2 linked regions of the Homo sapiens genome follow. The protein of the gene in region 2 purifies or fractionates together with the protein of the main gene of each other region. This does not show direct contact. Each region holds a gene or a part of one and is shown on either strand. Other genes may lie near its edges.

The links.
Region 1: the proteins of TTC9 (region 2) and MBNL1 fractionate together in Homo sapiens (co-fractionation; one large-scale study listed by BioGRID). This does not show direct contact.

The regions. Positions count from the first base shown.
Region 1 is NC_000003.12:152,267,429-152,271,728, reverse strand, and holds the start of MBNL1 (muscleblind-like protein 1), read right to left. Parts: upstream 2,801-4,300; 5' UTR 2,637-2,800; exon of another isoform or gene 1,951-2,636; intron 1-1,950. UniProt on the Homo sapiens protein: Mediates pre-mRNA alternative splicing regulation. Acts either as activator or repressor of splicing on specific pre-mRNA targets. Inhibits cardiac troponin-T (TNNT2) pre-mRNA exon inclusion but induces insulin receptor (IR) pre-mRNA exon inclusion in muscle.
Region 2 is NC_000014.9:70,672,658-70,676,136, reverse strand, and holds the end of TTC9 (tetratricopeptide repeat protein 9A), read right to left. Parts: 3' UTR 771-3,479; downstream 1-770.

The sequences.
Region 1 (4,300 bases), on a different chromosome or scaffold from region 2:
TGGTTGATGGGATTTTATTTTGGGCCAATCACTTCGTGAACCTATTTCACTTCTTTCCTCCACTCTTTTGACTCTCATATCTACTACCCACCCTAATGCCTTTGCATACAGAATTTTAAAAACCCAATCACCTATTCTTTTCAGCTTCTCCTAACCAAGACCTGAGATGTTCTCTAATCCGCACATCTATCACCAAGCAGAAAGCCAGAAGGTGCAGCAAGATTATTTATTCTCTGTTTCCATATAGATCTATCAAATACAGGCCTAATGTATGGCAACAGTGACAAATGCAAGGGCATTTTTTTCTTATAATGAAGATAAGGCATTTTATATAATAAAGTAACACACCCTTCCTCAATGAGAAATACAATTTTCAATGAGAAATATAATTTTACTCTTTTTTTTTCCCCCAGGAGAAATTTTGGGTTAGTCTGTTCTTGTTCTGGAACAAAACCCAGTGTTTCATTTCATAGGAATTCTGTGCCCAAAGGAAGAACAGAATGTTGGAATCAAAATTTAATGAATTCAACTTGGAGTCTAACTTTGCCTCAAATGTGGAAATGTAAACACAAGCAATAATATCTCAAACCATATAACACTTCAGTTTCTCTTTGGCATGACTGCGCAGAGTACCACACTTGATGTGTATCTACACACAAATTTGTTCACAGTTACATAAGGAAAAAAATTAAACTAGGCATATGTGAGGTTTTTCTGAGTCTCTTAGTAATAATGAAATCTGATTATTATGTCTTAAGTGACACTATAATTATAGATGAACAGGTTTTCTGTTGCTGACCCAACCTGTTCCTTAAAACACAAAAGGCAACTTTTGTAGTCTTCAGCAAGGAAACCCCCCATTAAACAAATAAGACTAAAAAAGCTATGCCTACATTTTCAAAGAAGACCTAACAATATAATAATAATAATAAAGTAACTCCCATGCAAATACACAAAACAGATAAAAACTAGAACATTAGGTTTTCTAAAGAAGTTTAGCCTTAGTTGTCACCAACTTTAAGAAAGCAAGATACAAGTGACAGCGATGTGCATTCTCAGGCTACAAAATAACTTATTCAGTGCCTCTATCTATAACTACATCTAAGACATTCTAAGTATTGAACTGCACATTCCTGGGATAAATTTTACAGTCGTTGAACTTTCATTTTCTCTCTGGGTGATAATATTTTATCTCAACAGCAAGGAGAAACACCAACACACTTAGGAATCCACACAGAGAGATAACTGTGGAGTGGCTCTCTTGTGCTGGTATAGAATACTTAGGTACTAAACACCCTCTGTGTATAAACAGACACTGTGTTCAAACCCAGGAGGAAGGGACATAGTGTCCACCGGTGTAGTATTTCAAAGCACGCTGCAGAGGGCTCGAAAGTCTAAAAGCATTAATTATGACTTCTCTCCTAGCGTATTAATTTAAGAAACTCCTCAGAGTATATGGCAGAGTTTGCCATCCATCTGCTATGACTTGTGCCTGTGCTGGTGGGCACACAAAGTGAAGTCAGCGGCAACAACCTTTCCGGCAGCTTCTTAACTTTAATCCTGGGGAGACATACTCCACGGAAATACACCCCAGAATCCCAACAGCCGCATACTCTCCCGGCCCCAGAGAGCCTTAAGAATACAATATTACTCTGGCAGCAACACCCCTGTAGTTGTAAAGTGCTGTGCGAGGGGAAGGCATAAGCGCCACCATATACCTGCTCGTGTTACAGGCTCTGGAATCAAAGTATTCTCACATGACACATTACTACCAATAACAGATTCCGGCTCCGTTTAAAAAAAAAAAAAAAAGTTGGGGGGTGGCTACATATTTGTCCTGCTTTTGTCTAAAAACCAGAACCCAAGTACTAACTACTTTTCATTCTTTTCAACCTTTCATGAAAGCAATTCAACCAACTGCGGCTCCACCCAAAGAGCTTCTATACTTACTTTTCTTACAGTTTTTGAGTGACGCACTACAAAACGATGAAAAAAAAAAGAAGAAGAAGAAAAGGAGGAGGCAGCCCTCTCCTACAGGGCGTCTTCCGCCCTGTAAACTTGGCAAAAGGCAAACTGGCCTGAAATACAGCACTCTCCATATAAGGCAGCCCAGCTAAACATGTCATGCGTAATTTATGGGTAGCAAGCAGAGAATTAACCTTTGCGTGCACATATTTGGCCCAGATGAAAACCGGGCGGGATGGCAGCCCCGGGGCCAGGGATGCGGGAGCCGCCGGGAAGACCCGCGCGCCGCTCGACTCAGAGGGACTCACACCTTCCCCCGACAAAGGTCATTAAGTTGTGAGTACACTTGCACGCACCTGTTTCTCTTCTCGCCCCCCTGTTTCTCCCTGGGTCCCGCTGGGCTGCCAAGCCGTGCGCGGGCTGTGCCGTGACAGCGTCCGCAGAGCCCGCGGCAGGGAAGGGCGCAGGAGCGGCTGCGGCTCACCCTCCCGCCTTCCCCCGGGCAGGAGGTGCTGAGGGACGCGAAACCAACTACCGCGAGCGGCCCGCCCCTGCCCGGGAGAACCGCGGCCGGCGAGCACCTCCTCGCACTTCCTCCTTCAGCCACGGGCAGACCCGCCGGAGTCCGAACAATGAAGCGGCGCGGGGAAACTGTGAAAATGGAAACTTACCTCTCACATTTTTTTTTCAGAGGCGGCCCCACTGTCGACCAAGTGCCCAAGGCATTGTGGGAGTCATGATTCCAAGATGCCCGCGACGGAAAATGGAACTTGTCAGCTCCTTGTCATGGGAGCATTGTGGGCGCCACAACTCATTCAGCTGCAGTGAAAAGACTGTTGCATGTCGCTGTGCAGCCTCTTATCGCCGAGGTCTGGCTTCCGCTGCTGCTGCGCGGCCCCTCCCCCGCCCGCCCAGCCCCACCAGGAAGCCCAGGGCGGACTCGTCGAGCTCCTAATGCACGCGGCGGCGAGAAAAACGCTCTTCAACTTTCCGCCGGCGCCCTCCCGCGCTTCCCCGGGCCACAGGGTCGCCTGTCAACCGGACAGAGCCCGCAAGAGCGGGTCATGGGCGGTCGCCCAGCGGCGCCGAGAGCAGGAGGAAGCCGGAGCCCGCGCGGGCGCCGTGGATCCCCTCGGCCTCCCGTTGGTATCTTCCATCTCATGCGTTCAGCATTGTAACCTCGCGGCGGGCGTGCAGACCGGACGCCCTCCCGCTTCTTCTACCGACTGCTAGGCACACCAGTGGGTTCATTTTGAAAGAGGCCCTTGCACCGGGCTTTGCAAGGAAGCCGGCAAGGTTAGATTGAAGGTTAGAAGCCAATTAGACTAGAATCCTGCGATCTGGTGAGACTGCCGCCTTAAAATGCACCAAACAGTTTTTGAACCTGGAGGGCTAACAGGCGGGAAAAACATCTGCAAGACTGCCACCGTGTATTTTTCTCAAGTAACAGGCTATCCACAGTTTTGGAATTCCTTAGTGAAACTGTCACACAGGCACAAACACATGTCAGCTTTCCTTCTAGTTTGTAAATAATATTTGTAATTTACAGGCCACTGTATTCCCAACTTTGCACCATGTGATTTAGAGAAAGCAAAGCTCCCTCTTTAAAAATAATATGTTACTTCTGAAATACCGGGATATTCCACGGCAAGTAAGCCATATTGTCGCCAGAGCAAATAAACCGCAGCCCCATATCATAATTCACTGGGTGCTATAAGATGTAACTTGGCTTTGCTTTGAATGGAAAGAATCCTGAACGTCTGTGATGTGATGAAGTTTTGGAGACTGGGGGCAGGATTTCCTTTGAATGTAAGGAATTCGGATAACTTGTTCAAGGATGATTCTAGTGAAAAACGTTTGTCCCATGTTTGTTGGGACAAAAATGCTGGATATGGTACAACATTCTTCCTGCAGGTTCGGTTTTGTTGAAGAGAGTGAGGCCAGCTCGAGGTGAAGGAAAAACATCAGAAAGGTGCTAAAGTGCAGAAATATCTTCCAGAGGCACTAATAGCCGACTTTAGTTCTTGACCTTTAGCTAGATCCACAAAGCACTGAGTTAAAATTGTACACTGATCCCTTCCAGAACAAATTAATTAATTAAATGGTGCCTCTTCCCAGCGTTAATCGTTTAAAAGGACTCAAGTACCCACACAGTTTAAGCAAACTAAAAGAACACTGACACTTTCTCAGAGAACAGGGATGGGAACTTTCTATCTGCCCATTAGTATCTACCCCAAGCTACGAAGACTTCCATTCCTCTTATTAAGCATTCAGCAACTACATTTAGTGCCTACTATGCCAGTGATGCAAGAATGGATAAGACAGTCCCTACACT
Region 2 (3,479 bases):
CGGGAGATGAATGTAAACTAGAAACTCTAATTTGTTGTAGCAAAAGCTAGGCTGAGGTAGGCTTGTGTTGCTTTAAGAATTCAGACTAAAGGACCAAGGAAGGCTTTCTAGCAGTGATCCTGAATGAAGGCCTATAGGAGTTAGCAAGGTAGAGAGGACTGAAGGGCTAAGGAATAGCCGATGAGGCAGAGGGAAGGAATAGCGTGGAAAGGCCCAGAGACCCAGCACAATGGCTCAGGGCGGCAAAAGAAGCTGCACAGCAGTGGAATGTAGGATACTTTGGGAAGAGGACCAGGAAGTGAGGCTGGAAAGATCAGTGGAGACAAAATATGAAAGACCGTGTGTGTTGTTAAGGAGTTTGGACTTTATCCTAGAAGTGACGAGGCGCTACTAAAGATTTTATTTTTCCTGAGACAGAGTCTCACTCTGTTGCCCAGGCTGGAGTGGAGTGGCGTGATCTCGGCTCACTGCAACCTCTGATGCCCAGGTTCAAGTGATTCTCCTGCCTCAGCCTCCTGAGTAGCTGGGATTACAGGTGCCTGCCACCGCACCCAGCTGATTTTTTTGTGGGTGTGTATTTTAGAAGAGATGGGGTTTCACCATCTTGGCCAGGCTGGTCTTGAACTCCTGACCTTGTGATCCACCCACCTTGGCCTCCCAAAGTGCTGAAGTTGTGGAGTGACATGGTCAAACTGTGTTTTGGAAGGGTCACTCTGATAGAAATAAGAGAATGAACTGTAGGCAGGAGAAGCTGGCAACAGAGGAACGAATTAATTGCAGAATTAAGAATTTATGTATGTCAAAAAGCACCATAAACAAAATTTGAAAGCAAAGCACTTGGAAAGCATATTTGCAGCATTTCTTGACAAAAATAATATTCTTAATAAAATTACAAATTGATAATAAACATACCAATATCAAATAAATAGAAAATTCACAAAGAAAGAAGTACAAATGGTCAATAAGCATATGAAAATGTTATTCGCGAAGAATCAAAGAAAGTTAAAATAACATTGACATACTATTATCCCAGCTACCAAATTGGGAAAGATTTGATAAGTGATGATACCTAGTGTTAGGGTGCAGGAAACAGGGTACTCTCTAGGATCCAAATAGGAGAGCGTTTTGGTACAAACTTTCTGGAGGGTGGTTGGCAACATGTATCAAAATTCTTAAAAATAGCCAAGCAAGTCTCTTCTTGGAGTTTATCCTAAGGAAATCGTTATAGACATGTGCAAAATTTAGCTACAAGAATGTCAGTTGCAACACTATTTACAATGAAGATTGGGAACAAATGAAATAATCACTATTTGAGGATTGATGATAAAAAAAGGGTCCATCCATACAATGAAGATGCTGTTGAGAAAGTTTGATATGCCGAAAATGTTCGTGATATTATTAAGTGAAGGAACAGAAGGAGCAAAAAACAAAAAGTGTCCAATATGCTGCCATTTGTGTGTGATAAAAGAATATATACATATGTTTGACAATGTGTAAGCATCTCCACTAGGATGCAAAATAAATTAGAGGGAAACTAGATGCTGGCAGACGGGGTAGGGAGAAGATTTACTTCTGACTACAGAGCAGTTTGTACTTTTTGAATTTTGTATCTGTGTAGGATTACATATTCTAAAATATAAATACACACTTGAAAAGTTATTAAAGAGTATATTCAGTGTATCCAGTTTTTGTTTAAAAAAATCCACAACTGTGTGTGCGTGTGTACATTTACACCAAAAAGAACTAAAAGGTATATTCAAAAGAATACACGTTTGTCTTGGGTGGTAAGCTTATGGATTGGATTTTGTCCTTTTTTTCCTAAAACTTCTACAATACACACATGATGCTTTCACAATAATTAAAAAGCGTTAGTTTTTCCCCCAAAGAGTCCATCGCAAAAGTCCAGGCAGGGGATGACAGTGCAGGTCAGATGCCTGATTAGTACTCCAGCTACATAGGTCAGCAGTGACATCCGCAACGTACGGAATTAAATCACAGTTCTTGTTTTGGGGAGGGATGAGGAGAAGGAAGCTGAAGATTTGGTAGGGAGAATGAACCTGGTTTTGTGCTCTAAAGCCTTTGTTGGACAAATGCACAGAAAATTCAGCCCTATCACCCCAAACATCAACCAATACCCCAGGTAGCTTTTTCTCTTTGGGATTATTTAACTTCAGGTCACAGTGAATGGAGTTCCAGTAAGCCTGTATATCTAAGTCACCAAACAAGCAGATGACCTGGACGCTTGTTCTATGAGGTTCTGAGAGGCTGTCTTCATTTCGTTCTGGTTTTTGATCTTTCTACATGGGATGGCTACAATCATATCCTGGATTGTCCAGCCCTGCCCCAGCACACTCATGTAAACAAGACCTCTCTCCTGTCTCTGCATAGGGAATAATTACTCGGAGTCCTTCCTGACGCACAAAGACCAAGGGAAGACCCTGGCAGTTTGAACTCATTCTCCAGGTGACCTCTACCCTTCTCTTCATCCTTCAGATCCTAACAAACCATCTGCCAAATCACAAACGTTCTAAGTTGGAGGCTTGGGAATGGGGGTGGGGGTGGGGGTCGGGGCGTTTGAACACATTCCCGTGTGGGGCCATAGGGTAGTTTTGGGTTAGGGTCATGTAAAGCCAGCTAGGAGGAAGAGGAAAGACAGCATAATATAGTAGGGATTGGGGAGAATGTGGCAGCTGAAATAGCTTCTTCCTTTTCCTCTTCTCCAGAGAGTGAGCTCTAGGTGAGTAATGGCAGGCCCCTCAATATTTCTAGCACCTTCCTGTAGCCCCCGTTGAAAGCCTTTGGGGAACTATGTGAATATAACTTACGCTGCTCTCTTCTGGGCCCCTCGGCTGTGATTGGATCCTGCCGTGGTGGGGCATCTGCTTACATAATTAACCCATATTTAACTTTGTGTTTCCTTTCGGTCTTAATTGTGACCCTTTCCCAATGCTGGGGATGGGTGATGAATGCTAGGTGAGTTGTTGAGATACATGCTGGCTCCATCAGTAAGTAGAATGAGCAATACACAGACATAACTATTGGACCTCAGCTGCCTTTTTCTGACCTGTCACTGCTCTGACTACTAGGGATTCTGGCCTCTGGTCTTTTGGGGCCCTTGAGTAAATACATAAGGAGGCCATGTACTATCACTGACATCATGAACACTTTTCAGGTTAATACATATTGTCCTGTTCTCAAATGGTTATAATTGCCCAATATTATACTTACAGAGAGGCAACTAAGTATAGCATAGATACTAGCCAGAGCTCTGGAGTCAGGCAGGCCTGGTTCAAATCCTAGCTATGCCACTAAAGGCCATGCAACCTTGGGATAATTAATTTTTCTGGTTTTCAATATTCTTACCCATCAAATGGGAACAGTATCCCAGAGTAACTGCATGAAAGAAATGAGATTATACATGTAAAGATCTGAAGATAATGCATTTAATAAATCCTAACTATTCACATTATTGCATCTGT